Regions from separate parts of the Homo sapiens genome. Here region 2 is linked to region 1. The links come from fine-mapping of genetic effects on gene expression. A gene starts in region 1. The other region holds a variant in brackets. All regions are shown on one strand. Distances are from middle to middle. Region 1 holds the start of SARM1 (sterile alpha and TIR motif containing 1). Region 2 overlaps SARM1 (sterile alpha and TIR motif containing 1).

Region 1 (15,752 bases):
CCCTACTCCCACCCCTCTCCAACCGTCCTCATCCTACCATGGCCTGCGTTCTCACCCTGCCCACACTTCCCCCATCAGATCACCTGCTGAGGATGCATCCACAGGGCTGGGCATGGAGCTGGCAAAGGGTAAGGTGCCAGAGGGCCGTGCCAGAGGGCCATGCCAGGGCTGTGCCCACACCAGACCCCCCCATTTGGGTTTTATCATGCTCAGGGTGGCTGGCCCCGCCTTCAGGAGTGGAGAGGTTTAGAGTCCAGCTCAAGCAAGGCAGAGAAGTCTCGGTGGGGAAGAAGGGAGGCTGGAGGCCGGGTTGGGCTTATGAGGGTATGGGTGGGGCAAATTGTATACCCCCTGCCCCTCCAAGGCCTCGCAAAGGAAGCTGGACCCAGCATCCCTTCTCAAACCTCAAACTGGCAGTCTGTGCCTGAAATCCTATACTTCATGAAAATCCTCCCAGGGGTCCTTCCAGGCAGCCAAAGAAAACCATCTCTCCAGTGCTCCCAGGCACTGGCTGCCCCTTCTGGAGCCCTTAGTGCTCTGAACCTGGCTACCTTCAGGGGAGAGGGAGTGGAGTCCTCTCCCACAACTGGGGACTGGGCTGGTGAAGTGGGACAGGATGAGAAGGATGGTAGGGTGTCAACGGGATGAATGGGAGCCAGCCGCTGTCAGCAGGACTGGGGAACAGATGTCACCACCAGATTGCCCTCAGGTCTGCTTTAGAGCTTTGCCTCATCTAACCCTTTCTCTCTCTGGCCCCTCAAGAGCCAGATGGACTTCCTGGGGTTCGGAACCTGGAACCAGAGGAGGTTCCACAGGTGCAGTTGAGGGGTTCTAAGAAAGATGATAAAGATGTTTATGTGTACAGTATTCTCTTCCTTGGATATATTCTGAGCCACTTTTTCTTAAATTTTGAAAATTTTTTTCTTTTTTCTTTTTTTTTCAAGATGGAGTCTTGCTTTGTCACCCAGGCTGGAGTGCAGTGGCGTGATCTTGGCTCACTGCAACCTCCACCTCCCGAGTTCAAGCAACTCCACCTCCTGCCTCTTCCTCCGGAGTAGCTGGGGTTACAGGCGCCTGCCACCACACCCGGCTAATTTTTTGTATTTTTAGTAGAGACGGGGTTTCACCATGTTGGCCAGGCTGGTCTCGAACTCCTAACCTCATGATCCACGGGCCTTGGTTTCCCAAAGTGCTGGGACCACAGGCATGAACCACCGTGCCTGGCCTAAATTTTCTTTTTCTCACTCTGTTGCCCAGGCTGGAGTACAGTGGTGTGATTTCTGCTCACTGCAGCCTCAACCTCCCAAGCTCAAGCAATCCTCCCACCTCAGCCTCCTAAATAGCTGGGACTACAGGCACACACCACCCATAAGTTGCCCAGCTAACTTATTTATTTTTGTAGAGATGGTGTCTTGCTATATTGCCTAGGCTGGTCTCAAACTTCGGGATTCCAGCAATCCTCCCACCTTGGCTTCCCAAAGTGCTGGAATTACAGGCATGAGCCACCATGCCCAGACAAAAATTCCCCCCCTTTTTTATTTTGTTCTGTTTTTAGAGATAGAGTCTCACTCTATTCCCCAGGTTGGAGTGCAGTGGTACAATAATAGCTCACTGCAGCTTCAAACTCCTGGGCTCCTGGGCCACTTTTCCACAAGAAGTGTGTGCTTTTGAATTTCCTTTCAGTTTCTGCCCTTCACTATCTCTCCTGGTCTTGCTGCTCCCCATCCTAGACCCTAGACAGAGACCTCAAGAAAGGCTCACCCTAGGGGTGGGTTTGGGGAAGCACAGTGACTGGTTCCCCAAGTGCTCAGGAGTCAGAGCTACTAGGATTTCAGATCAGGATGGACAAAAAAGCTGAGCCAGAACCCCACCAACTCTTGCCCCTTCTCTCTCCTCCAAGACCCTAGTCAACTCCAAGGGGCAAAGCAAGCCTCACCCACGGAGGCTGGCCTGGTAACTTTGTCATCATCAGAGGAGTTCAAGTGTCTGCTTAGCTGCTGGTGGGTTGCTGGGGGCTGCTTAGCTCAAGAGGAAGGGTAGCTCTCAGGAGGCCTTCCCCAGCCCCAAACCGGTTCACAGAGAGGTCCTGAGCACAGAGAGGTCCTGAGCCCAACATGGGTTGGACACGGCGAGGCCCTTCTCTGTCCCTTCTCTGTCCCCCTCACCAACCCATTCTGACAGTCCAGCTTCCTCTCCTTTACCCAGACAGGGATGTGTCTACCCCAGTCAGAACAATAATTTTAAACTCGGGGCTAAGGGACCTTTATTGGGCTGGGGGAAGGAGATGGGAGGAGGGAGCTACAGAGGGCCCGGCCATGTGGGCTCTGACTCCTACAGATGGCCAGGAGCTGGGCAGCCCAGCCAGTACTGAGCGATGGAGCGTGGGTAGGGAGGGTCCACAGTGTCCACTCGCCGTGTGCGAAGATTGACTCGGTAGTACTTGTCTGGAAGAGAGGAAAGCAGAGGATGCGTGAGGCCCAGCCTGGCCCTGCCCACTCTTCCCTTGAGAAGTCTAGGGTCTCTCCCAGAAGGGAAAGTGAACATCCATGATGCAGCTAAGGACTTCTGGCCTGGCTTTCTGTGGTCACTACTTGCAGGCTGCGTTCAGCCCTTGTGCACCAGGGACAGCAAGGAAAACCCAAGCTAGACCAGCTTCAGGGGTGGCAGCGGCTCCTACCTCCAGAGAAGAAGAAGACACTCTGGATGGGTTCACAGGTGGCAGGCACAAGCCAGTCCATCCTGTAGTCATCATAGTTGTTGGCTCCCAAGTTGCTCTCCTCACTGGAGAACAAGGACAGCCACGTGGCGCGGGATGGCCGGCGGGAGTTCTGGTTGCGGCCACGGCTGTGGCCTCGTTGTGAACGGTAGCCTTTGCGGTTGCGATGCCTAAACCTTTGTTTCTTGGCCAAGGAGGGGCGGGGTGCCATGCCTGAGATGTAGATGCGGCCAGCCATGGCTGCGTCCACTTGCCCTGGCACACCGTGCCAGTCCCGGCTAATGAACTGGGGCTGTCTGGTACCAGCTGTGGCAGGGAAGGGGTGAATGAGAGGTCTTGGGGGTCCGAATCTTGCCCCTTCCAGCGGGGCCATTAGAGTTCATCTGCTGCACCTTGCCCAAAGACACACAGCAGCGAATGGCAGAGCCAGGCCTTTGACTCTCAGTCCAATTCCCTTCCCCCTGTGCTTTCCCTCCACCATATCACTGGTGTCTCGACCCCACCCCCCCAGGCCCCCTAAACTCCTCAGCCACAGCCCCTCCCTCTGCTGGCTGTGCTCTCAGCTGTGCTAGGCAAAGTCCAAGGTGTGGGGTCCAGGTAGAGCTGAGCTTTCCCCAAAAGGTCAACAGAAGCAAAGTCTGGCCTGAGCAAACAGACTTTGATCGATAGCTCCACAACCACAGCCCCCTCCAGCCGGCCTGGCTCTACCAATACCAAGGGGTTTCAGCCCTTTTGAGGGAGAAGCAAGACTTGCCCTCTCTCCATACCAGAGGTTCTGCCCCAGAAGAGAAGCTCGAAGATGTCCTCCCAGCTGTCCCGCTGCATCATGGCAAAGTGTTCAAACACAGCCGACAGGGAGCTGCCTTCACACTCCTCCTGACTGGGCTGGTGCTGGAACTGGTACTCCCAGTACTGTTTCCCTGAGGAGCAGGGTGGTGGGCATTAGGAGGGCTGGGCCAGGGCAAGACTGGAGATCCCAGAGGCTGTTGAAGTTAGGATCTCCCAGCATGAGGTGGGGGTCAGGGGTGGGCACATGCTGAGGCCTGTCCCCAGTGAAATGTGAAAGGAATCCAAGACTGCTCCACTGCCTGCTCAGTCTCCCACCACCCCCTGAGTACCCTTGAAGAAGTAGACCCGCTCCCGGCCACTGTAGCTATGGGCAGGGAGGGCCAAGGCTGCATCCACGTTGTCCGGGATGCCATCGAAGCCGTCAGAGATATTTCGGGGGTAATCAGGGTCCAGGACACCATCCTCAAAGCGCCAGTACTGACTACCCTAAGAGGTGGGGAAAGTGAAAAGGGGTATGGAGGCCGCTGGCTGGGCACAGAGGCAGAGTCCCTTGCCCTAAGGCAGCCGTTCCCAGGTCCAGGTTCACTGCCCAGGACCTGGAGTCTTGGGGCTGCCCTGTGCTCACAGAGCTCCCACCAGGTCCTGCAGGGCCCTGGGTCCAGCTTCCCTGTCCACCCTGTCCCTGGGAGCAATAGCTCTCAAACCCTCCCTAGATGCTTTCTACCCTGGCCCACAGCCCCTGGCACCTTGAAGAGGTAGGTCTTCCCCTGACAGTTGATGCGGGTGAAGGCGGCATCGATGGGGCCCTCGATGCCCCAGACATCTCGGATGAGCTTGGGGTACCCAGGCCTCACTGCCTTTTCGTCCAGTTCATAGCAGTACTGCCCTAGAGTGGAGGAGATGGTGTGAGAGCAGGGACGCTCCTGGGGCAGACCCGCATCCCCAGTACCTGCCCTGGATTCACCTCGGAAGGCAAAGAGGGAACCGTTCTTGAGGTCGGTGAAGGCGTCGAAGGGCTTCCCACTGCACAGCTCCTCCTCTGCTGGGGGCTGAGGTCTCCCTGGATGAAGGGTCTCAGGCCTTGAGTCTATCCCCTCAGGCTTAGAGGCGCCCACCTCAGGCGCAGGGGCCTCTTCCTCAGGTTTCAGAACAGGTGTCTGCTCAGGATTCCCTTTGGACTGGGCCTGGAGGTCAGAGGTCAGGGAGGGGCCCCCCACCTGTTCATGGACAGTGGCATTGTTTTTCTCCTCGCCATCGTCATAGACCGTGTACTCATCCTCCGGCATAGTGAACACATCCCCGCGAGTCACTGCAGAGAGTGGATGGTAGTGAGTCTCCAGCAGCAGGGGGCACCCCAGCCCACCCACCTGGGCTCTGAACACACCTTGGGGCTTGCACTCAGCCGTATAGTCTGTGCAGCAGCTCTGGTAGTAAGAGCAGAGCTCGTCACACTGGCACTTCTTGTCCACGTTGAAGCCCTCAGTGCAGCGGCCCTTGCATGACTCTATGAGGAAGGAGTGTCAGTCGGTGCCACCAAGCCCAGACCACCCTCGCCCTCCCTACATTGACCCAGATGGCCACCAACACTCCCCTGTACCTTGGTCAGCCAGAGCAACCCATGCCAGCAGGGCCAGTATGAGAAGGGGTCTCAGGGGTGCCATGGCAGGGCTTCTAGCTCAGTGCCTGGCAAGCTGGGCTCTGGTCTCCCTGAAGTCTCCGCTCTGATGCCTGAGGAAGGGAGGGAGAGGCAGAGACAGGGAAGGAGGGCACTGGAGAAGAGGAACTGCCTTTTCTGCTGCTCTGTTTGCTCAACCTCCAGCCCATCCCCTCTGCCCCCTCCAGCGGCTGCTGCAGCAAAGGTCACATTCCTGGAACACTGGGCCTGGGCGAGCTGGGAGATAAGACCTTTGCCAAGCTCAGAATCATTAGGTCATCGGAAGGGGAATTAGCACCGTGGATCTGGAGGGCAGAAAGAAGGCTCATTGGGCAACAGCTTTATCTCTCTGAGTCTTAGTTCATTTTCAGTAAAATAGGATTAACAAAGCCTTGCTTCATGGGGTGTTGGGAGATTACATGAACTGGACCAGACAAAATGCCCAGTAGCTGGAGCAGCCACAAATTCCTTCTCCAAACATAGCTATTGATCCATGATTGTTTGATCAGACACATCCCTGGCTGGGTGCTCATTCGCCATTATTTATTTAGGGCAGGAAAAAGGGAGTGGGAGGAGAGATTGTAAGCACTCTGGGGAATTTTATTTTTTAGCATAAAAGAACAAAGTTTCATTTCTGGGTTCTTCTCTTGGGTGCATCAATCTCCCCAGGCTGGAAATTTGGGTAAATATCAACCCACTGGACTGGATTTAATTTCTGAGTCTTTTCTGAGCAGGCCACTCCCTGTCCCCAGGCTCAGTCTCCCCATCTGTAAAGAGTGGGCTTGTTCAACACACTTTTAGACTCTCGAGAGAAATATGATCCCTCTACCTGGAAAATGCCCACTGGCATGAAACACCTGATTTTGTGCCCAATTTCAGGTGTCCACAGAACTTCTGAAATCCTCCCATCACCTGAAAAAAGTGATCCTGAGATTTTAGCTGACTTTTTCTGTTCTGTAATCAGAGGGGACTGTGATTTGGGCCAATTTCTTCCTCATGGGCTTCAGTGGAGTCAGCTGTGGAATGGAACATCAATTCCCACCCCATAGGCATGTTGTGAGGTTTCGCTAAGAAACAGCCATAAAAGGGCCTTAAGAGTTATGATGATTGTTTTAACCATTTAGTAGGGAGGGGGCATCCAGCGGTGTTGCTCCCACGTACCGATGTCACGTGGGGCGGGGAGGCGGGGCGGAGAACGGAGAGCGTCCTCTCATTCTCCACCCCCTTCCTCCAAGTCCAGCGCAGGGGGAGGTGGCTGCGACTGACTGAGGGGCTAGGGAAGGCTGGCCAGGGGCGTGGGCGTGGCTGGGGACGGCTTGGGGGTGGGGCTGCGCAGGAGGCTGGAGGAGCCCCGCGGGACCCAGAGGCGGGGCGTCGGCCCGGGGACCACTGCTCCTCCGGGGCGTGGCTGCAGGAGGCTGGAGGAGCCCCGCGGGACCCAGAGGCGGGGCGTCGGCCGGGGACCGCTGCTCCTCCGGGGCGTGGCTGCTGCCGAGCATCTCCCAGCTCAGCCGAGCCCGTGCCCAGGCCACGCTTTGTTCCAGCCGCCGCCTCCTCTACCCTACGGCGTCCGGAGCCATCCCTCGCCTGCTCGCTCTCTCCTTTCGCCCACTCCCTGCATCTGGGCCTGCATCACCTTTGCCAACCGCTCCCCCGATCCTGCCGACACTCCTCCCCCAAACTTCTGACCGGCACCCTTGCCTGGTACCCTTCTCTCCATTCCTCCCCCTCCATCTTCTTTCCCCGACCCCTCTCGGGTCCCTCTTTTCCCAAAACCCGGGTCTCTCCGCGTGGCCCCGCCTCCAGGCCGGGGATGTCCCCCGCGGCCCCGCGCCCATGGTCCTGACGCTGCTTCTCTCCGCCTACAAGCTGTGTCGCTTCTTCGCCATGTCGGGCCCACGGCCGGGCGCCGAGCGGCTGGCGGTGCCTGGGCCAGATGGGGGCGGTGGCACGGGCCCATGGTGGGCTGCGGGTGGCCGCGGGCCCCGCGAAGTGTCGCCGGGGGCAGGCACCGAGGTGCAGGACGCCCTGGAGCGCGCGCTGCCGGAGCTGCAGCAGGCCTTGTCCGCGCTGAAGCAGGCGGGCGGCGCGCGGGCCGTGGGCGCCGGCCTGGCCGAGGTCTTCCAACTGGTGGAGGAGGCCTGGCTGCTGCCGGCCGTGGGCCGCGAGGTAGCCCAGGGTCTGTGCGACGCCATCCGCCTCGATGGCGGCCTCGACCTGCTGTTGCGGCTGCTGCAGGCGCCGGAGTTGGAGACGCGTGTGCAGGCCGCGCGCCTGCTGGAGCAGATCCTGGTGGCTGAGAACCGGTGAGCGCGCCAGGCCGGGGTTGGGAGAGCGCCGCGTGGTGTGGACAGTTAAGCGCCTGCGTTCCCGTGTGCCTTGCGCCGTGCCTTTGCCTCCCTCACCTCTCTGACTGCCTGCACTACATCTCTGTTAGGGGTCAGCCTGTCTGTTTCACAGATAAGGAAACTGAGCCTTGGGAAAGTTTAGTGACTTGCTCAGTGGATCACAGTGAACTAAGATTTGCTCCCAGGGCTAGTGGGGTGAGGAATGGAGTTACAGGACAGGAGTCCGTCCCTGGCTCTATGGATGGAGATGGCATCCTATTGCCAATTCTCCCTCTCCCCCGCCCCCCAAGCCCACAGCTCTCCTTCCCACCGGCTTGGGTTCCCGTCTATGACACCTTCTCTCGCCATCATCCCATCCCTCTCCCAATGAGAGAAGAAGGGAAACACAACGCTCAGAAAAGAGGGAGGGAGACCTCTCCTTTCCCTCCTCCCCAGGCTGTAAGGCGTGCTGGCCTGAGGCTGCTTACTCCCTTCTTGCCGCCCCAATCCAACTTCTGCTCCATCCTTCATTCTGGTTCTTGCAACAGGCCAGACATGATCTCATTCTGCAGCTGCTGATGGGAAACAGTTTTCTGCTGGGAGGCATGGGTGGGGGAAGAGGACACCGGGGTGCAGAGCCCGGCGGGGACCAGGCAGAGTGTGTGTTCTCTCCCTTCACCCCACTTAGCACCAAGATGCCGCAAGAGGGTCAAACAGAGGCCTGGTTGCCACTCTTGCATGTCTCTTGGGATCTCTCCTGGAGTATGAAGACCTCCAAGGACTCACTTTCCCTCCCTTCTGATGCCAGAGCAGACCAAGCTGTCACACTCCAGTCTCATGCTGAAGTCTCCAGCTTCTCAAGCTTAGAAGAGTTTTTGGAAGAGTCACTTTCAGCTCATGCAGCTCTCACAAGTGTGAAGGGAGTGGGTTGGGGGTGTTTTCCTTGCCATTTTCGAAAAGAAAAAAATTACCTGGTGATTGGTGGAAAGATACAACTGTCAAAAATGCATGAATGAAGCAATTTAGGTTGGGAGACCAAGATAGGGTTCTGCTTATTTGGCAAGCCATTAACCTCCCATCTGACATCCGTTGCCATGATGGGGATAGGCCATGAATTTGGAGGGGGTAGCAAATAAAATATGTGCTCACTGGGTGTGGTGGGGTCAAGGCTGGTAGGTGTGCCCTGCAGGCTTGCTATGTGGAGTCAGGAGCTATAACTACAATCCCTGGAGAGTGAGTACAGCCAGCAGCCCAAGGAGAGGAGGGTTGCAAGATGCAAACAGTACTGCTATATCTCAAGGTTAAAAATGGCAATTCTCACCTGGTTCAGAGTTACCGAGAGAAGAGTCACTAACCAGTGTCCCTGGTCTCAAGAAACGCACGCTGGTCTCTTCAGGACCAAGGACAGAGCACAACGTGCGTGGTTGCTATCACAATACTTCCAAAGAAAGGCAGGATCCCCGCCAGGCGCCGTGGCTCACGCCTGTAATCCCAGCACTTTGGGAGGCCCAGGCGGGTGGATCACCTGAGGTCAGGGGTTCGAGACCAGCCTGGCCAACATGGTGAAACCCTGTCTCTACTAAAAAAAAAAAAAAATACAAAAATTAGCTGGGCATGGTGGCGGGCATCTGTAATCCCAGCTACTGGGGAGACTGAGGTGGAAGAATCGCACAGAACCCGGGAGGTGGAGGTTGCAGGGAGCCGAGATTGTGCCATTGCACTCCACCCCACGCTGGATGACAGAGCAAGACTCGTCTCAAAAAAAAAAAAAAAAAAAAAAGGCACTGTCTATAATCCTAGCACTTTGGGAGGCCAAGGCAGGCAGATCACCTGAGGTCAAGTGAAACACAAAAATTAGCCAGGCATGGTGGTGGTGCGTGGTGTGTGCCTGTAACCCCAGCTACTCTGGAGGCTGAGGCAGGAGAATTGCTGGAACTCGGCAGGCAGAGGCTGCAGTGAGCTGAGAGCGCGCCACTGCACTCCAGCCTTGGCAACAGAGTGAGACTCCATCTCAAAAGAAAAAAGAAGGGGAGGGTCCCTGCACCCCTTGTAGGCTGCATGAGAATGGGGCTGGAAAGAAGAGAAGGGGAGTGACACACTGCGAATTTATGAAATGTTTTTCTCCTTCACCAACCAAGCCCCCACTGCCTCATCTCAAAGAAGGCTCTTCTGGGCAAGCATGGTGGTTCATGCCTGTAATTCCAGCACTTTGGGAAGCTGAGGTGGGTGGATCACTTGAGGCCAGGAGTTCAAGACCAGCCTGGGCAACATGGCAAAAACCCATCTCTACAAAAAATATACAGATTAGCCGGGCGTGATGGCATGCACAGTCCCAGCTACTCAGGAGGCTGAGGTGGGAGGATGGCTTGAGCCCAGGAGGCGGAGGTCACAATGAGCTGAGATCATGCCACTGCTTTCCAGCCTCAGTGACAGAGCCAGACCTTGTCAAAAAAAAAAAAAAAAAAAAAAAAACAATTCCATCAGTGTGCCTACCCCTTTTTGCCACTTCCCTCTTGCTTTCTTCTTCTCAGGATGCTATTGCACCCATTGTCAAGGAGCCTAGGTCACAGTTTTCCTGACTTCCAACTACCAGAAGTCCAACAGAATATGGCTCTTCAAATCTGGCCCCACAACACCCAGTGAGGTCCCCATATGACTGCTAGCCCTCTATATTCACAGTCCACCCCCTTCAGGGGATCTTAATGAAGCTATCCTCAGAGTAGTTAAATGGCTTTCCCAGGAATATTCAATGAATAAATGGAGGAGACAGGTTTTTGAAATCACAGAAAGGCGGCCAGGAGCAGTGTCTCATGCCTGTAATCCCAGCACTTTGGGAGGCCCAGGCGGGAGATTGCCTGAGGTCAGGAGTTCGAGACCACTCTGGCCAACATGGTGAAACCCCGTCTCTACTAAAAATACAAAAAATTAGCCGGGCTTGATGACGTGTGCCTGTAATCCCAGCTACTCTGGAGGCTGAGGCAGGGGAATTGTTTGAACCAGGGAGGTGGAGGTTGCAGTGAGCCGAGATCGTGCCGCTGCACTCCAGCCTGGGCAAGAGTGAGACTCCATCTAAAAAAAAAAAAAAAAAAAATCACGAAAGCCATTGCACATAAATTCAAAAAAGTGGAAAAGCACACAAAAGGTATACAGTTAAAAGTTATTCTCAGCCAGGCATGGTGGCTCATGCCTGTAATCTCAGAACTTTAGGAGGCTGAGACAGAAGGATTACTTGAGCCCAGGAGTTTGATTGAGACCAGCCTGGGCAGCATAGTGAGAGCCCTGTCTCAATTTTTTAAAATTAAATTAAAAATTTTTTAAAAGTTCTTCTCAACCAGACCCCCTCTCTGGAGATAAACCACTATAACAAGTTTCTTGTATATCCTTCCAGAGAGAGTCTCTGCATATACAGGCATTTGCATGTATATTATATAGACATGTTTGCAATATATATACAATCTTCCCCTCCTTTGGAGCTGGGATTTGAATCCAGACCTGTGTAATTCTAAAATATCTGCCCATTTCACCAGACCCACAGCCTCTCAGACCACAGAAGAACTGGGAGCTGGGTGAGTAGTTATCACAAGAGTGCAGCACAGTTCCACTCTGTAAAGGTGCCAGGTGCATAGGGAAAAGTGAGGGCTGGGGCATCAGGAGACTCAAAATAAAGTCCTAGGTCTGAATTGATATGTTCCTGAGCAAGTCCTTCCCTTCGCTGGGCCTCAGGTAAGTCCTCTGAAAATGAGAGTGTTGGCTGGCCAGGGGCGGTGGCTCACGCCTGTAATCTCAGCACTTTGGGAGGCCAAGGCAGGCGAATCGTTTGAGGTCAGGAGTTCAAGACCGCCTGGCCAACATGGTAAAACTCTGTCTCTACTAAAAATACAAAAAAAAAAAAAAAAAAAAAGAGCCAGGTGTGGTTGTACATGTCTGTAATCCCAGCTACTTGGGAGGCTGAGACATGAGAATCAGTTGAACCCAGGAGGTGGAGGTTGCAGCGAGCTGAGATTGCGCCACTGCACTCCAGCCTGGGTGACAGAGTGAGATCCTGTCAAGAAAAAAAAGAAAAGAAAAAGTAAGGGTGTTGGATTAGATAATTTCCTTCTTATCTTTTGTTTTTGTTTTTGTTTTTGGTAGAGACAGGGTCTTTCTATGTTGCCCAGGCTGGTCTCAAACTCCTGGACTCAAGCAATCCTACTGCCTTGGCCTCCCAAAGTACTGGAATTACAGACATGAGCCACTGCATTCAGCCAGATTAAATAATTTTCTTATTTTATTTTTCATTTTTTGAGATGGAGTCTCCCTCTATCACCCAGGCTGGAGTGCAGTGGCACGATCTTGGGCTCACTGCAACCTCTGCCTCCCAGGCTCAAGTGATTCTCATGCCTCAGCCTCCCAAGTAGCTGGGATTACAGGCACCTGCTACCACGCCCAGTTAGTTTTTGCATTTTTAATAGAGATGGAGTTTCACCATGTTGGCCAGGCTGGTCTCGAACTCCTGACCTCAAGTGATCTGCCCACCTCAGCCTCCCAAAGTGTTGGGATTACAGGCGTGAGCTACCGCACCTGGCCACATTAGATATTTCTTAAACATATCCTGGCTCTTACATTCTAGGCATTTATGCAGTCAGATGTCTAGAAACGCAAAATGAAGGTGAAGGATCTTGAACTCTGGAGACAGGCAGATCTGGGTTCAAATCTCAGCTGTGCCTCTCAGAAACTGTGTGACTCTGGGCATGTCATGTACCCTCTCTGAGTTTTGGTTTTCTCATTGGTAAAAGGAATAACTGGGCCAGGTGAGGTGGTTCATGCCTGTATTCCCAGCGCTTTGGGAGGCCGAAGTGGGAGGATTGTTTGAGCCCAGGAGTTTGAGACCAGCCTGGGCAATATAATGGGATCCTGTCTCTACAAAGTAAAAGAAAACAAAACAAAAAAAATCAGCCAGACATGGTGGTACATGCCTGTAGTCCCAGCTACTCAGGTGGCTGAGTTGGGAGGATGAATTTAACCTAGGTGGCCAAGGCTGCAGTGAGCTGTGAGCTTATGGCATGTTCCGGACTCAGGTAGGTTCTGCAGTGGACACAAAATCACATGCACTATGGTCACTGTGGTGCCCTTTGGGCAAGGACTCCATTGCTGGCTAGGCCTCTACCTCTTTGGCAGTAATGTCACCTGTGGAGGACATCACTTTTTTTTTTTAGACGGAGTCTCACTGTGTCACCCAGGCTGGAGAGCAGTGGTATAACCTCGGCTCACTGCAACCTCTGCCTCCTGGGTTCAAGTGTTTCTCCTATCTCAGCCTCCTGAGTAGCTGGGATTACAAGCGCACACCACTACACCTGGCTAATTTTTGTAATTTTAGTAGAGATGGGGTTTCACCATGTTGGCCAGGCTGGTCTTGAACTCCTGACCTCAAGTGATCCTCCTGCCTCAGCCTCCCAAAGTGCTGGGATTACAGGCATGAGCCACTGCGCCCGGCCATCTGTGGAAGACATCATTTGTGGAGGTCAGTAAGGCAGGAAGCCTGAACCTCTACCAGGATGTGGCAACTCTCCCACCTGCTCAGCAGGCCTCCAAGTTCTCTCTGTTGGATCTGTCCTCTCCACCACAGCCAGAGTGAATTTTCTAAAACCCAAATATGGCCAGGCCACTCCCCTCCCTGAGAGTTTTCAGTGGCTTCTCTTTGACATCAAGATAAACTACAAATGCCTTGAGGTGCCTCAAAAGGTCCCCAGGTCCGATCTCTTTTCACACTCTCCCCTTGAATCTTCTGCCTCAGCCATGGAAGTGTGGGCAGCTCCCCAAGTGCACCAGCTCTCCAACACCTCCAACTCTTTGCATATACCTGTGCCTGAAATGCAACTGAAATGCAATCTCTCCTTCTCCTCCTGACTAATGCCCACACTATTCTCTTGCCCTAACTCCATAAGGAACCATTCAGTATATCTAATGTGTATCTTTCTATCTGTGTTCTGCTAAAATCTTTAAATCTTTATTCTTGGTCTTGTGTGCATGTATTTTTAATGTATATTAATAGTGCTGTGTCATATAGCACATTCTATTTCTTACTTTTTCCCACTCAGTGTTGGGTTTTATTGGTTTTTTTGTTTTTGTTTTTGTTTTTTGTTTTTTGGGTTTTTTGTTTGTTTGTTTGTTTTGAGACAGGGTCTTGCTCTGATGCCCAGGCTGGAGTGCAGTGGCCCAATCATGACTCGCTGTAGCCTCAACCTACTGGGCTCAAACTATCATCCTGCCTCAGCCTCTCAGGTAGCTGGGACTACAGGCCTGTGCCACCATACATGGCTAATTTTTTTGATTTTGTAGAGACAGGGTTTTGCTATGTTGCCCAGGCTATGTTGTCCAGGTTCGTGTTGCTGTGTTATCACCTGCTCAGTCACTTGGACCTCCCTGCAAATCCTACAGAGTAGGCACCTGCCCATGTTACCTGACTCTCCCCAAGCTTGATACTGATTGCCTCCAACTTCCTCACACTACAAATGACACTGCAGTGAACATCCTTGTCTAAGTGCTTTTCTCTATCTATATGACAATCTCTTTGGGAGAGGTTGCCTGTATTGTTCAGCTTCTGATTTTGCCCATCTAACAGGTGTAAAGTGGTAGCTGGTTTTCTGTTTGCTTGTTTTCTGCCAGTGAACATTTTATTCAAGGTATGTGTGTGGAGAGTGGTCAGGGACAAAGGAGAGTGGGAATGGCCTTTGAAATAAAATAAAATGATTTAGGTGAAGAAACTCTAGGAAAGGGTAATTTTCTCCATTTAGATCTTTTTTTTTTTTTTTTTTTTTTTTTTTTTGAGACGGAGTCTCGCTCTGTTGCCCAGGCTGGAGTGCAGTGGTGCCATCTTGGCTCACTGCAAGCTCCGCCTCCTGGGTTCACACCAGTTTCCTGCCTCAGCCTCCTGAGCAGCTAGGACTACAGGCACCCGCCACCACGCCCGGCTAATTTTTTGTATTTTTAGTAGGGACAGGGTTTCACCATGTTAGCCAGGATGGTCTCGAGCTCCTGACCTTGTCATCCACCCGCCTCGGCCTCCCAAAGTGCTGGGATTACAGGCGTGAGCCACCGCACCCGGCCTAGATCATTTTAAGAAAGAAAATGACAGATAAGGTTTCTGGTCTATGGAACTAACAAACAAGTAGACTATTAATATAATATCAGATATTAAATGCCCTGAAGACAATAAAATAAGGTAATGAGTTAGAAAGTGATGGGGAAAAGCCTTTAGATTGGATGATTGGAAGGAAGTAACATTTGAGCAGACATTGGAATGACGAACCATGAAGCGGATTTTGTTGAAGAACATTTCAGGTAGCGATAGCTATTGTTTTAATTTTCATTTCTCTGATTACTAATGAGTTAGAGCATCTCTTTATCTGGTTTTTCAAATTTTGGATTTCCTCTTGTCAATTGCCTGTTTATGTCCTTTGCCCATTTTCTTTTGAATTTGTTGCCTTTTTCTTCTTGATTTGAATATTTGCTGATATATTCTACATATAAACCCCTCATTGATTTTTTTCTTTTCTTTTTTTTTTTTTTCTGTCTCTCTCTCTCTTTTTTTTTTTTTTCTTTTGACACAGGGTCTCACTTTGTTGTCCAGGATGGTCTCAAGTGAGCCTCCCACCTTGGCCTCCATGTGCCAGGCATTGTGCCAAGCATTCTACAGGCATGAGCCACCTTGCCCAGCCTGGTTTTATATTTTCCCTTTTTGGTTTTAGACATCGCAATACCTCTGGCATTCTTTCTATTCCTCAAACACGTCAGCTCCTCTGCCCTCAGGCCTTCATCCTTGCTCCTCTCTCTGCCTGTTATGCTCCTCCCAGATATTTGCACACAGGGATTTCTTCACATTAAGCTTAGATGTCACCTCTTCCCACATACCCCTCCTCCAGGCACACGCCATTACATCATCCTGTTTTGCTAGCGCCAAGGCCCTATCACTACGATCTGGTTCACTCATTGTTTTCTTGTCTATGTCTTCCTCCATCGCCCTGAGGATAAGCTCTGGCCAGTCTCTGTTAAACCTCAGCCCCTAGTGCAGTGGCTGGCACAGGGGACGTCCTCAGGAAGCATCTGTTGAATGAATGAATAGATATGCCCCGGTCATGGGCCATGGAGTGAGGAAAAGGCAAGGCTAAGAGTGGTGTGCTTCAAGTGACACTTCAAATTAGGACAAGTTAATATTTGTTGAGTTTTTACCATGTGCCAGGCATTGTGCCAAGCACTCTATAAGGCTTATCTCATTAGTCCTGATAAT
Region 2 (13,208 bases), 22 kb after region 1:
CTGGAAGTCAGGAACCACAGCTCTGACTGTAATAGGACTTTAGCAAACCACAAGGGACAAGAGACTAGGCTTTGGCTCTCTGAGCCTCAGTTTTCTTTTTCTTTTTTTTTTTTTTTTGTTTTTGAGGTAGAGTCTCGCTCTGTCACTCAGGCTGGAGTGCAATGGCGTGATCTTGGCTCACTGCAAGCTCCACCTCCCGGGTTCACACCATTCTCCTCCCTCAGCCTCCCGAGTAGCTGGGACTACAGGTGCCCGCCACCACGGCTGGCTAATTTTTTTGTATTTTTAGTAGAGACAGGGTTTCACCGTGTTAGCCAGGATGTGAGCCTCAGTTTTCTTTTCTGCAAAATGGGGTAACTTACCTGTTCCACTCACCTTATAGAACTGTTGTGAGGATCAGAGAGACATAAAAATGCTTTGAAAAATAAATTCCATGAGAGACAGGAGAGCATAGCGACAGGCAGAATGGAATAGTTGTTGAGAGCTCAAAACTGAGAGTTTGAATCCTGGCTCTGGCCTTGGGCAAGTTACTTAACCCCGATAAGCTTCATATTTATTTCTGGAAAGAGGGTATAATAATAGTATCTAACTCCCTAGAACATTGTTATAAGGACTAAAAAAGCCAAAATTTGTGAAGTGCTTAGCAGAATGGCTGGCACATAGTAACTGCTCAATAATGGTAGCAATTATTATTATTAATATAATTATTATAACTACTATATCTGTTTAATTCATCATTGTATTTTCAGTGCCTGACGCATTGTAGGAACTTATTGAATACTAACAGAATGCATTGATGGATAGCTCCATATTGCATCTTCAGGTTATTAATCATTAATCGGTCAGTAGGAATTGGAGTTGGGGCTGAGGGATGCAGTAGTCATCTAAGAGACAGGATGAGACAAGCAGTCAGCTCAGAGACAAGAATATGCCCAGAGGGCTGGGCACAGTGGTTCACACCCGTAATCCCAGCACTTTGGGAGGCTGAGGCAGGAGGATCACTTGAGGTCAGGAGTTCGAGACCAGCCTGGGCAACATGGTGAAACCTTGTCTCTACTAAAAAAATACAAAAATTAGCCAGGCATGGTGGCGCACACCTGTAATCCCAGCTACTCAGGAGACTGAGGCAGGGGAATCGCTTGGGCCCAGAAGACGGAGATCACACCACTGCACTCCAGCTTGGGCAACAGAGTGGGACCCTGTCTCAAAATGACTAGATCGCATACAAGTTGGTGTAAATGCTGAGCCAGGTAAGCAAACATCTTGCTTGCCACAGGGGTTTGGAGAAGGGAGAGAGCATCAAGGTGTCAACGAAAAGAGTCAGACTCTATGAGCGACCATGGCCTGTGACACAGCCCTCAGGAGACCCTGAGAACACGTGCCCAAGGTGATCAGGGCACAGTTTGGTTTTATACATTTTTGGGAGACACGAGACATCAATCAATACATTTAAGATGTACATTGGTTTGGTTCAGAAAGGCAGGACAGCTCAAAGCAGGGGCTTCCAGGCTATAGGTAAATTTTAAATTTTTCCAGTTGATAATTAATTGAGTTTATCTGAAGACCTGGGATCAATAGAAAGGGAATGTTTAGGTTAAGATAAAGGGTTGTGGAGACCAAGTTTTATTGTGCAGAGGAAGTTCTCAGGGCAGACTTCAGAGGGAGTAGGTTATAAAATGTTTCTTATCAGACTTATAAGGGTGCCTGGCTCTTTGTTGATTATCTCCTGAGTCCGGAAAGAAAAAGAAAAAAATGGGGGGAAGGGGATTCTCTATAGAATGTGGCCTTTTCCCACAAGAGACAAACTTGTGGAGCAATTTCAAGATATGGCAGGGAAATATATTTGGGGTTAAAATATTTTTATTTCCTCCCTTATTATGTGATGTTATGCTAGAGTCAGGTTAGAAAGCAGACCACGCTATATAGGGTTAAAATTAAAACCTCCTCCGATAAGACTTTATGGTTTGTAGGGCATGACTCCCTAGGCTCCTTAGGTAGGAATTTGGGCAAGATAAAAAAAAAAAAAATCAGAGTTTAGTCCTCAAAGGACTGGAATAATCAGGGAAGACTTCATGGAGGAAGCAGGTCTTGAGAAGAATCTTAAGAATCTGGGTAAGTGGAATAGAAGGCATCCCAGGCCAGGGTAACAGCATGAGCAAAGGAATAAAGGTAGGGAGGAGAACAGTGCTGAAAGCCCACATACATCTTGGTACTGCTTTCTCCATATCACAGATGAAGAAACTGAGGCTCAGAAAAGTAGAATAATGTTCCCCTGGCTGCACTACTAGTGTAGAAATCAGAAAAGCTAGGCTTCAAATTCCATCTATCTGACTCCAAAGCTCATCACTTTCCCAAGATCCACACTGCATTCTATGGCACAGCTCTGAGGGGGTGTGAGGGGAGGTGATGGGGTAGGGCTGGATTCGGTTGACACCAGAGATGATTGTATCTCTTCACAACTCCACATCCAGTGATGTCATGTTGGTAGCTTGTCATCAGCCATGGTGGGAGTATTTACACCAAGGAAATTGGCAACCACTACAAATCAAAGTTTTGTTAGTTTGGTTGATTGGCTGGTTGGGTTTTCTTCCCCCATGAATAGCTAGTTACTATAAAGTTAGCAGCACACCACTGGCTGGATAAGAACCATGGAAACCAGGTAAAGCAGTGTCTAAAGGCAGGAGAAGACCTGTGCTTAAAGCACTGGAAATCAAGGAGCCCATGAAGGAGAAGATGCCAGGGCGGTGGGTCTTAGGATGAAGGCTCTGACACTGGAATGCAGTCCACATGGAGTGTGGAGTCAAGCCCCAGAGGCCATGTAGGAGGGGCTGAGTACTAGGCCTGGTTTGGGGAGGGGCACTGGGGCAGTTGAGCATCCAGGAAGAACATGGCTGATAACCCAGAGCACGTGGCAGGCAGCCTTTTGAGAGAAAGAAAAGAGTGTCTGTGAGCTCCATGAGACTTCAGACCTTGCCTCATTCATCTGTGTCCCTGGTGCCTAAAACCATGCATGGTACAAAGGAGGCTCTATGCAATTGCACCAAAAAAAAAAAAAAAAAAAAAGAGAGAGAGAGAGAGGCTGAGGCTGTAGAGGAGTTTATAGAACAATTGAATCAATGATTAAGCAGACAAGTGATACTGATGAAGCTGAGATGCCATGCCTGGGAGAGCCATACATATCTAGTAGATTTACCAGGTTAGAGGACTTGACTCCGTTTTTTTTTTTTTTTTTCCAGTAGAGATAGGGTTTCGCTATGTCACCCAGGCTGGTCCCGAACTCCTGAGCTCAAGCCTGGAGTTCAGTGCCTGCCTCGGCTCCCCAAAGTTCTGGGATTAGAGGCATGAGCCACCGTGCCCAGCCAGAGGACTTGACTCTAATTGTTTTCGTTCTCAACCAGCTAGGTGATCCTGAACAAACCATTATCCCTTTCTTTTATTTATTTAATTATTTTTTTTTTTTTGAGGCACAGTCTTGCTCTATCACCAGGTTGGAGTGCAGTGGTGAGATCTTGGTCGGCTCACTGCAACCTCCGCCTCCCGGGTTCAAGTGATTCCCCTGCCTCAGCCTCCTGAGTAGCTGGGACTACAGGCACACGCCACCATATCCAGCTAATTTATATATATATATTTTTAGTAGAGACGGGGTTTCACCATCTTGGCCAAGATGGTCTCGATCTCCTGACCTCGTGATCCGCCCGCCTTGGCCTCCCAAAGTGCTGGGATTACAGACATGAGCCACCACACACGGCCGCCATTATCCCTTTCTTGGCCAGCCTCTGAATCTGTGCGATGAATAATTTGTACTGTCTTTGGTTTTGTATAATTCTGGATGAAACAAATTTCTAAAAATTTCCAAATAAATTGCTGCAGGCTCAGGATTCATTCCAATGCTCAGCAGAAAGGCAGCAGGGCTTGGCTGAAACAGCCTGGACTTGGACTCTCGAGGCTTGAGTCAGAGGACCGGCCCCTCGTGGGCTGGGCGTGTGTGTGGCTTAGGAGGAAATCCCTTCCTCTCTGGGCTTTTTTCTCTCCATCTGTAAAATGGAGCGGCTCCCCAGGAAGCCAGTCAAGGACGAAGTTACGCATGTTCTTTCCCCAGGAAGGCTCCACTTCCCAAGAATGCTTGGCACCCCTTGTCGTCCCAGCAGATGGCAAAGAGGTGAGAGGAGCCTTTGTCTTGGACCGGCCCCAGAGGCTCCGTCATCCCTCTTTGGTTGTTTCTGGTGCTTAATTGCCTCTGGTTTTAAAACTCCTTTCCCTGAAGCCACATTAGTGGGTAATCAATAGGGAAAAACCACAAGTGAACTGCACTCAAAAAAGTAAAATCCCTTTGGTTCCCTCTTGAGAGGAAGAAAAACATTCAATAAGCACTTAATGGAACCCGATTACTAGCAAATAATTCCTCAGAACAACGCTTTGAGGTAGGTTTTATTATCCCCACTTTACAGAAGAGGAAATAATAACACCTATTACGTATTAAGCATACACTGCATGCAAAGCACTGTTCTAATTACTTGCCATGGAATGTTGCGCTTATTCCATGGAACAATCCTGAAGACAGGGACTATCATTAATCCTGCTTTATATATTAGAAAACAGAGGAACGAGTGTGGTAGTGCAGGCCTGTGATCCCAACACTTTGGGATGCTAAGGTGGGAGGATCACTTGAGGCCAGGAGTTTGAGACCAGCCTGGGCAACATGGTGAAACCCCATCTCTACTAAAAAATACAAAAAATTAGCCGGACATGGTGGCACACGCCTGTGGTCCCAGCTACTTGGGAGGCTGAGGTGGGAGGATGGCTTGAGCCCAGGAGGTTGAGGCTGCAGTGAGCCTTGATGGTGCCACTGCCCTCCAGCCTGGGCAAAAAGTGAGATCCTGTTCCCCTGCCCCCCGCCAAAAAAAAAAAAGAAAGAAAGAAAAGAGAAAACAGAGACTTTGAGAACCTATTATTTTTGCCTCAGGTCGTAGAGCCTGTGTCAGAGACTCAGTGCAAACCCCGATTTGATGATTCCAGAGTGCAGCCCTAACTGCTGTGCTATGTTTTCTCATTCATTCATTCATCCATCTATTAAATATTTAGCAAGGGCTAACTATAAGGGCTTTGTGAAAGATGCTGAGATATAAGGTCAGTGAAAAATAGATATGATCCCTCCTCATGTCTGGCAGAGAAGACAAATACTGAGTAATTTACCCATTAATTAATTAAAATTTGCAACTATAATATGTTCTGCAGAGCCTATAATAGGGGAACTGACTTGGTCAGGGCAGTGGGAGACAACTGCCCTGTGTAAGAGTTGATTGAGCTCAGATCAGAAAAATGAATGGGCATTATCAAGGGGGAAGGACAAGGAAGCTTATTTTGTGTGTCTGGGAGGACAGGGCAGGGGTAGAGTTTGAGAAGTGGACTGTGGCCAACCACATAGGGTCTCACAGGCCACATGAAGGAGTTTGGACTTTATTCTAAGACCATGCAAAGTCTTGAAGAATTTTAAGTAGGGGGTGACAGGACCTAATTTGTCAGATGTGCATTTTGCAAATATTAGCTACATGAAAGGGCAATGTGGAGAGTGAATTAGAGAAGACAAGCGTGGATGAGGAAAGACCTGGTGGGGGCTTAAAGATAATGGGGATTGGAAGAGGGTGGTAGTGGGGTGGAGGTAGGGAAAAATAGTGGATTTGAGAAATAAGTAAGGAGTACAATTGGCAGGGCGCATGATGGATCAACCTGTACGCAGGAGTGTGATGTTTTTCTTCTGACACCAAATTGTTTGGGGTTTTTCCCACACTAACCACTAATTCTCCAGCTTGCCAACACCAACTGGGTATCCCGCAATTCAATTCAATTCTGAAATGTCAGTCACGAGGCCCAGGCCCCCAGGCTGCCACATTTCTGTTTGATTTGGCTACAAATTCGGGGGTGCCCATGACACCCCGAGATTCAATTTGCCAGAATGACTCACAGAACTCAGGAAAGCACTTTACTTACTATTAGTTGTTTATTATGTCAACCTTAAATAATGAGATTCAGAAAATAAGACTAAGTATAGAGTTTCTTTGAGTGCAAAGTTTGAGAATAGCCACCCAGTAAGCATTGACTCCAAAGGCATGGGGTGAGCATTCCAAACTGGAGAAGTTAAGGTTTCACTTCCACAGGCAAAGAGAGAGGAATTTTAGCAGGATTACAACATTTTCCATACAAGACCAGTGCGTATGTTACAGTGCTTTGATTGGTTATAGATTGCTACATTCCAAGGAAGATGACTTTATTACCCCCTGAGAAAGGGTGGTGATCTAAGTGGGGATCTAAGGGAGTCTTATCTCTGGTGCCATTTGGTCTTCCTAAGTAATTACAGAAAAAAAAAAAATAGGTGGAAGTTGCAGCTGCATGCCCCATGACTCAGGCTGCAGAGACCAATTCCTGTCAAGGCTCAGAATAACTTAAAGTTCCAAGAGCTTTAGGTTTGATTTAACAAAGCTTGAATAATAGTAATAAATAATATTATTAATCTCAAAATCCTGGGCTCAAGTGATCCTCCTGCCTCAGCCTCCCAAAGTGTTGGGATTACAGGCGTGACCCACCATGCCCAGCTGAATTATTTAATTTCACAGTTATAAAGGACACAGCTCAAGAATAGCCAAATGGAAGAGATACATAGGATCTCTACGTATGGAGGGTGGAGGTGTGGATGCCATGCCTTCTACCACCTTCCCAGCACCTACACCTGTTTATCAACCTGGAGGCTCTTCAAAACCCCTTGTTTGGGGGTTTTTATGGAGGTTCCATTATGTAGGCATGATTGATTAAATCATTGGCCATTGGTGATTGAACTCAATCTCCAGCACCTCTCTGGAGGCTGGGAGGTGGGGCTGAAAGTTCCAATCCTCTAGTCATGCCCTGGTCTCCCTGGTGACCAGCCCTCTTCCTGAAACTATCTAGGCTACCCCCATAGCACCCCCCGGGCCCCCAGTGGGGAATCATCTCTTTAGCATACAAAGACACTCATCACTCAAGAGATTCCAAGGGTTTTAGCAGCTCTGTGCCAGGAACTCTGGGCAAAGGAAAAATATTTATTTTTTATTACACTACAAGGGTTAAGGTAGACATCAAGGTGGACATCAGGACTGGTGTCCTGCCCTGGGCCCAGCCTCGGGCCAGTGGGCCTCCCAGCACCTGCCTGGCTACAAGGGTCCCTAGATGGGTACAGGGGTATCTTCCTCCTTTCCTTTCTTTCTCCAGGAGATTGTGACTGCTTTAAGCTGCGGCAAGAACATTGTGCCCATCATTGATGGCTTCGAGTGGCCTGAGCCCCAGGTCCTGCCTGAGGACATGCAGGCTGTGCTTACTTTCAACGGTATCAAGTGAGCCCCAGGGCCCTGGGACCAGGGGGGTAGGGTACAAATCACCATGACAGGCAGAGTGTGGGCAAACAGCTGACTAGCAGCTCCCTCTGCCCAGCTGTCTGAACCACATTGGCTCCTGTGCCCACAGGTGGTCCCACGAATACCAGGAGGCCACCATTGAGAAGATCATCCGCTTCCTGCAGGGCCGCTCCTCCCGGGACTCATCTGCAGGCTCTGACACCAGTTTGGAGGGTGCTGCACCCATGGGTCCAACCTAACCAGTCCCCAGTTCCCCAGCCCTGCTGTGACTTCCATTTCCATCGTCCTTTCTGAAGGAACAGCTCCTGAAACCAGTCTCCCTGGGCTGAGACAACCTGGGCTCTTCTTAGGAAATGGCTCTCCCTCCCCCTGTCCCCCACCCTCATGGCCCACCTCCAACCCACTTTCCTCAGTATCTGGAGAGGGAAGGGAAGTCAGGCTTGGGCACGGGAGGTTAGAACTCCCCCAGGCCCTGCCATTGGGTTGTCTGTCTCCGTCATGGGGAGGGTCCCTGCTCAGTTCTGGAGACACTGGAGTTGGGGTGGGGGTGGTTCTGCATTCCCTTCTCCTGCTGATAGCAGTCAGCTTGAGGAGGATGACGGAAGGCAGCCTCAGACAGGAATTAAGGCAATGCCCAGGCGGGCCTGGGCACTGTATTCTGAGCAAGGGCCTGGGCCCAGGAGCCAGCCAGGGATGAGTGCCATCATGGCTCTCCACTCAGACTGTGCCTGGCCCCTGCACTTACAACTTCCTGCCGCTCTGTGGCCTTGCCCTGTAATCACTCAGTGCCCTTAGCTAGCCTGACTAAGTCCCAGATCCCCTACAGCTTCCTTCGGTGTGGTATCTTTTGCCACATCCAGGGCGAGGGTTGAGGCAAACCAGCCCTCCCTCTGACTTCCTTGTCACTGCAGCCAGCTTTGCTGCACTTGCTGGTGCACAGGAGCCTCCTGTTTGGGCCTGGGTCTGGGCATGGGGAGGCCGTGCCTCAAAGCCCACCCTACCCCATGCCTTGGTGCTGTGCCTCAGGCTCCTTCCTGGTCTGGCCCAGCTGGCTTCCCCAGCCCCTCAGCCATCCAGGGCTACCCACTGCTTACTCAGGGACCAGGCAGCCCCCATGGCAGTAAAAGCAGCCTAGACAGAACCTGCAGCTCTGTGGAAAGAGGCAAAGTCCTGAAAAGGCAAAGGGTTGTCACTTAGGGCAGCTTCTCCAACTTTAACATGCATCCAAGTCACCTGGGAATGTTGTTAAAATCAGGAGATCTGGGGTGGGGCCTAGGACTCTGCATTTCTTACAGATTCCCAGGTGAGCTGATGCTGGTGGTTAAGGGTAGCAAATCTCTAAAGCACGAAGCCCTCACAAATCTTTGCCATTTCCCAAACACTCCGCTCCATGGTCTCCAGTCATCAGAGCAACTCTACCTGGTATTATCATCCCCATTTTACAGATAATGACACTGAGGCTCAGAAAGGTTGAGGATAAGCCCACTTTCCTGTCATTAGTGGCAGCCCCAGATCCAGACCTAGGCCTCCTGGCACCCAGTCCACTGGCAGTGGAATTGCTTTCCTGAGAATCATTCTGAGGCTGGGCTATTGCTTCTCCCTTGCTTCAAAGAATCTAGCAGCGGGGGATAGGATTTTGCAACAAAAAGCTGACCCAGAGGCCATACAGAGCAGGAATATCCCATTGCCCCCTCCTCCACTGGGTTCAGAGGGTAAGAAAGCACCCTCCAATAAACCCAGGCTCCAGGCCGTGGGGGCTGCTGAAGGCTCTTTCCCCGCAAGGGCCAGGTGTTGACACCTTAAAGCTGGCTGCGCCCCCAGCCCCACTCTTGGCTGTGCTGGCCAGGTGACTCCTAGTTCTTGGCCACATCATCAGAAAGTCAAAGGTCTCACTCCAGGTTTGGGGCTCCTTCCTTCCACTCCCCTCCCTGCCAGAGTCTGTCTTGGCCAGTGCCAGCCTCGATGCTTTGGTTTTGACCCCACCTGATCCTCCTTTCCTCATGCAGCACAAGTGCTCACCGGGGCCAGAGCCAGGGCATGGATATGACAAGCAGGGCAGCCTGGACACTGCCCTCACAGGACAGCGCCAATAACAATACAGTGTCTGAGTATCTCCAGGGGATGATTTCTGGCTCTTTGTCTCCAATCAGTCCCACTCCCTCCTGAGGTCCCCAAGGGCAGTATTCAGAGAGGTTTCCTGC[G/A]TTTTATTTCTATTTGGTATACCCTCCACTGTTGTCCACTGCCCTGTGTGGCCTTCTGGTTGACCTCTGCCCGATCTTCTGTCTCTCTGAGGGAATCAGAGTCCAGCATCCAGCCCCAGCTGGAACAGCTGAAGTCACAAGCCTCCTCTAAGCCAAGGCCAGTGTGTTCAGAGGTGACTGCCACCCATACTAGGACAAACACAGCTCAGATCACCAGGTCAAGCACCTAGGCCTGGCTTCTCCTGAGACAGAGGACTCAGAAGTGGCCTTTCCTCCAAAGCCTGCTCAGACACAGGTCTGTAGGGCCAGGGTGTTCTGCTTGGCTGGGCTGCAGCTGCTACCCCTCGGTTGGGGCTGAGTCAGCCAGATCCTCCCCCTACTTCTCCCCAAGGGCCAAGAACTGCTCAGGGACATTAAAGGTCAAAAGTCCAGCCACACTCATTCATCCTTTCCCCAGGCCCATGAAGAGAGGCATCTCATTGTAGAATGTATGAGGAAGTGGGAAGTATCTCAGAGAATCAGCTAAGTTTCCTAACTTGTCCATCCAAATGTGATCACCACGATTCAACAATTTGGGGCATTGCTGATCTAGCCGTTCCTAGTGGGGCTTGCTCAAGGTTGCACAGCGAGTCAGTAGAAGCCCTGGCTGGCCCCACTTGGTACCAATCCACCAGGCAGCTCAGGGCTCCTGCCCAGCCCAGCAGCTTCTGTTGTCTAACGTATGGCAGGCAGACTGGGAGCAGGAAAACAGAGGGCCCCAAAGCCCAAGGCACCAGAAGGTTTGTTTCAGTTTGCTGAAGCTGATTTGTAATGATTGGCACTCTTCAGCCAGGGGAGTGGGTAGGCCATAGCCAAGGATCGATTCCCCAACCACAGCAAAGGCAACACTCTTCCTCCAGAGATCACCAAGCCCCTCTTACCTCCCTCCCTCCTTCCCAAGGCTGGCACTAACCAGGTACCACATTCATTGTTAAGGAATGGCTGATGACTGCTACACGTGTTGGGAACCTGGTTGGGGCTGTGCAGTTTGGGCTGGAAGGAGAGATGCCAGCCCTCGTGCTGCCTCTGGTCCCTGAAGTGTCACCTCTCTCAGGACCTCTCCTCTGGCCTGTGGGGTTATAAGTGATGGATAGCAGAAAGGGAGAACTGACTCCTGTCCCAAATAGCTCCTCTGCCACCTGTCCTGCAGTGGGCCTGTGTGGGTTATGATTCTAGATCCTAGACAGAGGCTGGGTCAGCTGTGGATGGGGTGGTGCCTTGGTCTCTCTTGACTACCTCGTCCAAAGAGAGCACTGCCCTTAGACAAGAGTTGCTTGTCCTGCTGTGGGCTGGGCTTCCAGCTGCAGACCTCCAGTTGCTTGGTGTTCACTTTGCTCCTCTTGCCCTCTGTCTTCTGGTCCAGGCAGATCAGGGGCTCTGGGGAAACTGCTGGAACTCGAGGTGAGGATCAGCCTTTTCCAGCATCCTGTGAGAGACCAGAGAGAGAGTTTGGATTTCATGTGGGGAACCCTCAAGGCCTGTCTGGAGAAGTGACACAGGATTTACTGGGGTGGGCTGGTCCAGGTAGCTCTCCTGAACCTCCTCCTTCCCCAAGCTGAGAAGCTGAGAGCTGGAGGACAATATCCAGGGACATGGCTCTGGAAAATAACTTTTTTTTTTTTAAGAGACAGGGTCTTGCTCTGTTGTCCAGGCTGGAGGGCAGTGACATAATCATAGCTCACTGTACCCTTGAACTCCTGGGCTCAAGTGATCCTCCTGCCTCAGCCTCCTTAGTAGCTGGGACTACCAGTGCATACCACCATGCCTGGGTGATTTTTTAAATTTTTTATACAGACAAGGTCTTGCTATGTTGCCCAGGCTGATCTTGAATTCCCGGGCTCAAGTGGTCCTCCTGCCTCAGCCTCCCACAGGATCGGGATTACAGGCAAGAGCCTCCACGCCCGGCCATGAAATATAATTCTTAATATCATACAGGAAAAAGTCAGCGGGTCAAGCTAGCCTGTGGCCCAGCCACAACTAGCTGACAAAGCTTCCTGGCCTTCCCTTTAACACAGTTCTGCTGCCATAGTTCCATCTATAAAATGGGAATGGAGGGAAATAGGGGAACTGGGAGAGAGAACACAGCCTTGCCAAGCAGCAATGTTAGCCTGATCCTTCCTCCACCTAGCTCGCCATCTCGCCCTTGGAAAATGGCTCCTGGAGGATTAGGCAGCCATCTGCAAGGAGAGGGGCAACCTGGGACAAGACACCCAGAGGGTAAGGATTCCAGGAATGAAGCTGCCATTTCTGGTTGGGAGGAGAAGAGGAAACTTTTAAGAGAAAGGGCTCCATTATGAGCATGGGTTCAGGGCCCTGCATTACCCAATCAGAACAGCCGGGATGAGCAGGAGGCCAGCTCCCAGGAGGAAGGGGAACCCCTTCATAAAGTTCAGAGTGGCTGGGTAGAGTGAGTTGAAGATGCCGGAGGCCGTCAGCATGGCCAGGCTATTCACACAGGCCACAGCAGAAAAGAGAGCACCTGTGAAGAAATAAATACCATACTCTGGAGTCCGAAAGGGCCATATTCCAACTCTGGCACCACCACCTCACAGCTGTGTGACCGGGAGTAGTCACTTAACCTATGTCTCCCCTTCCTCACCAGTAAATCCTGCTACATCATGTACTGTGACAAGGATTCAGTAAGGTCATATGTGGACAGTAGCTGGCACAGAGGGGCTACTAAACAAATGGCTGCTATTAAATCCACATTAAAAGTACATGTGATCTGACAGAACCCAGCACATAAAAGAAAAAAAAAGTACATGTGATATTGTCTGATGAAAGCTTGATGGAAATGGCTTTTTTCTGGTTTATCCTCTTTGGAATCATCTCCTGTTTGGGATTAACTGCTGGTCTGATCAGTTCCAATATTCATAGCGGTGTCACCACTGAATAGCTTCTTATCCTTTGGGTTCCTGTTCCTCCTTCTGCTAAATAAGGATAATACCTATTTCCTAGATTGTGAGCAACATTAAGTTCACATGGAAATCACCCATCACTGGGCCTGGTCCCCTGGAAGTAGCTAGTTAGTAAGGGCTGTTCTTTTCTCCTGTTTCTCTTGACATCTCTGGGCACAGAGAAAGTGCTGGGAAAAAAAGTTTAGGTGAATGAATGAAGACACATGGATTCTGGGGACACCAGAACCCACAGTGGGCTCTGTATGGCACCAGAGTCTCTGTCATCATCAGATCCTCATTCCAGGACAGATGGAAAAAGATGAATGTTTCCAGACTGGGGCATAAAGACCCAGAGGCTGGAGAAGCTGTTCTTTATAGATATACCAGGAGAACCCACAGTTTACAAAATGTGCAACAACCCAACAGAAGTTGAGATTAAATTCTGTCACATCTAGAGGGGTCTGTGATGTCATCAAAAGCAAACCACCCACATCACAGATGAAGAAACAGGCCTGTGGCAGGGCTCGGACTAAAACCCAGATCCTGAGACCAGCTGCTTTTAAACACAGACGTAGGTTTGCATCCTAGCTCCACCATTTACTGAGTAACCTTGGGTGAGCCAATGTAACCCCCTGGGTCTCTGTTTCTTTATCTGTCAACTGTGGAAAATGAAACCCATGTCACAAGGT

Evidence for each region.
Region 2: its variant is fine-mapped to the expression of SARM1 in whole blood (TOPMed, PIP above 0.99).

What each region holds. Positions count from the first base shown.
Region 1 is chr17:28,365,038-28,380,789 of GRCh38, forward strand. It overlaps SARM1 (sterile alpha and TIR motif containing 1), which reads left to right and starts at 6,657. Exons shown (of 9, transcript NM_015077.4): 1 at 6,657-7,465. The coding sequence starts at 6,996. It overlaps VTN (vitronectin), which reads right to left and starts at 5,270. Exons shown (of 8, transcript NM_000638.4): 1 at 5,103-5,270; 2 at 4,890-5,009; 3 at 4,470-4,814; 4 at 4,252-4,391; 5 at 3,835-3,991; 6 at 3,484-3,636; 7 at 2,678-3,022; 8 at 2,247-2,444. The coding sequence starts at 5,166. The coding sequence ends at 2,332. SEBOX (SEBOX homeobox) reads right to left here and starts at 162. Exons shown (of 3, transcript NM_001080837.4): 1 at 84-162. The coding sequence starts at 114. RefSeq lists silencers at 6,390-6,719, 7,040-7,209, 15,019-15,219.
Region 2 is chr17:28,388,666-28,401,873 of GRCh38, forward strand. SARM1 (sterile alpha and TIR motif containing 1) reads left to right here. Exons shown (of 9, transcript NM_015077.4): 8 at 7,240-7,361; 9 at 7,492-13,208. The coding sequence ends at 7,621. SLC46A1 (solute carrier family 46 member 1) reads right to left here. Exons shown (of 5, transcript NM_080669.6): 4 at 11,945-12,101; 5 at 5,977-11,048. The coding sequence ends at 10,991. Among named protein-coding and RNA genes, the nearest start is that of SLC46A1, 11 kb to the right of the region's middle. RefSeq lists enhancers at 7,016-7,699, 8,383-9,066, 9,831-9,920. The variant G/A (reference allele first, on the strand shown) is at 9,584.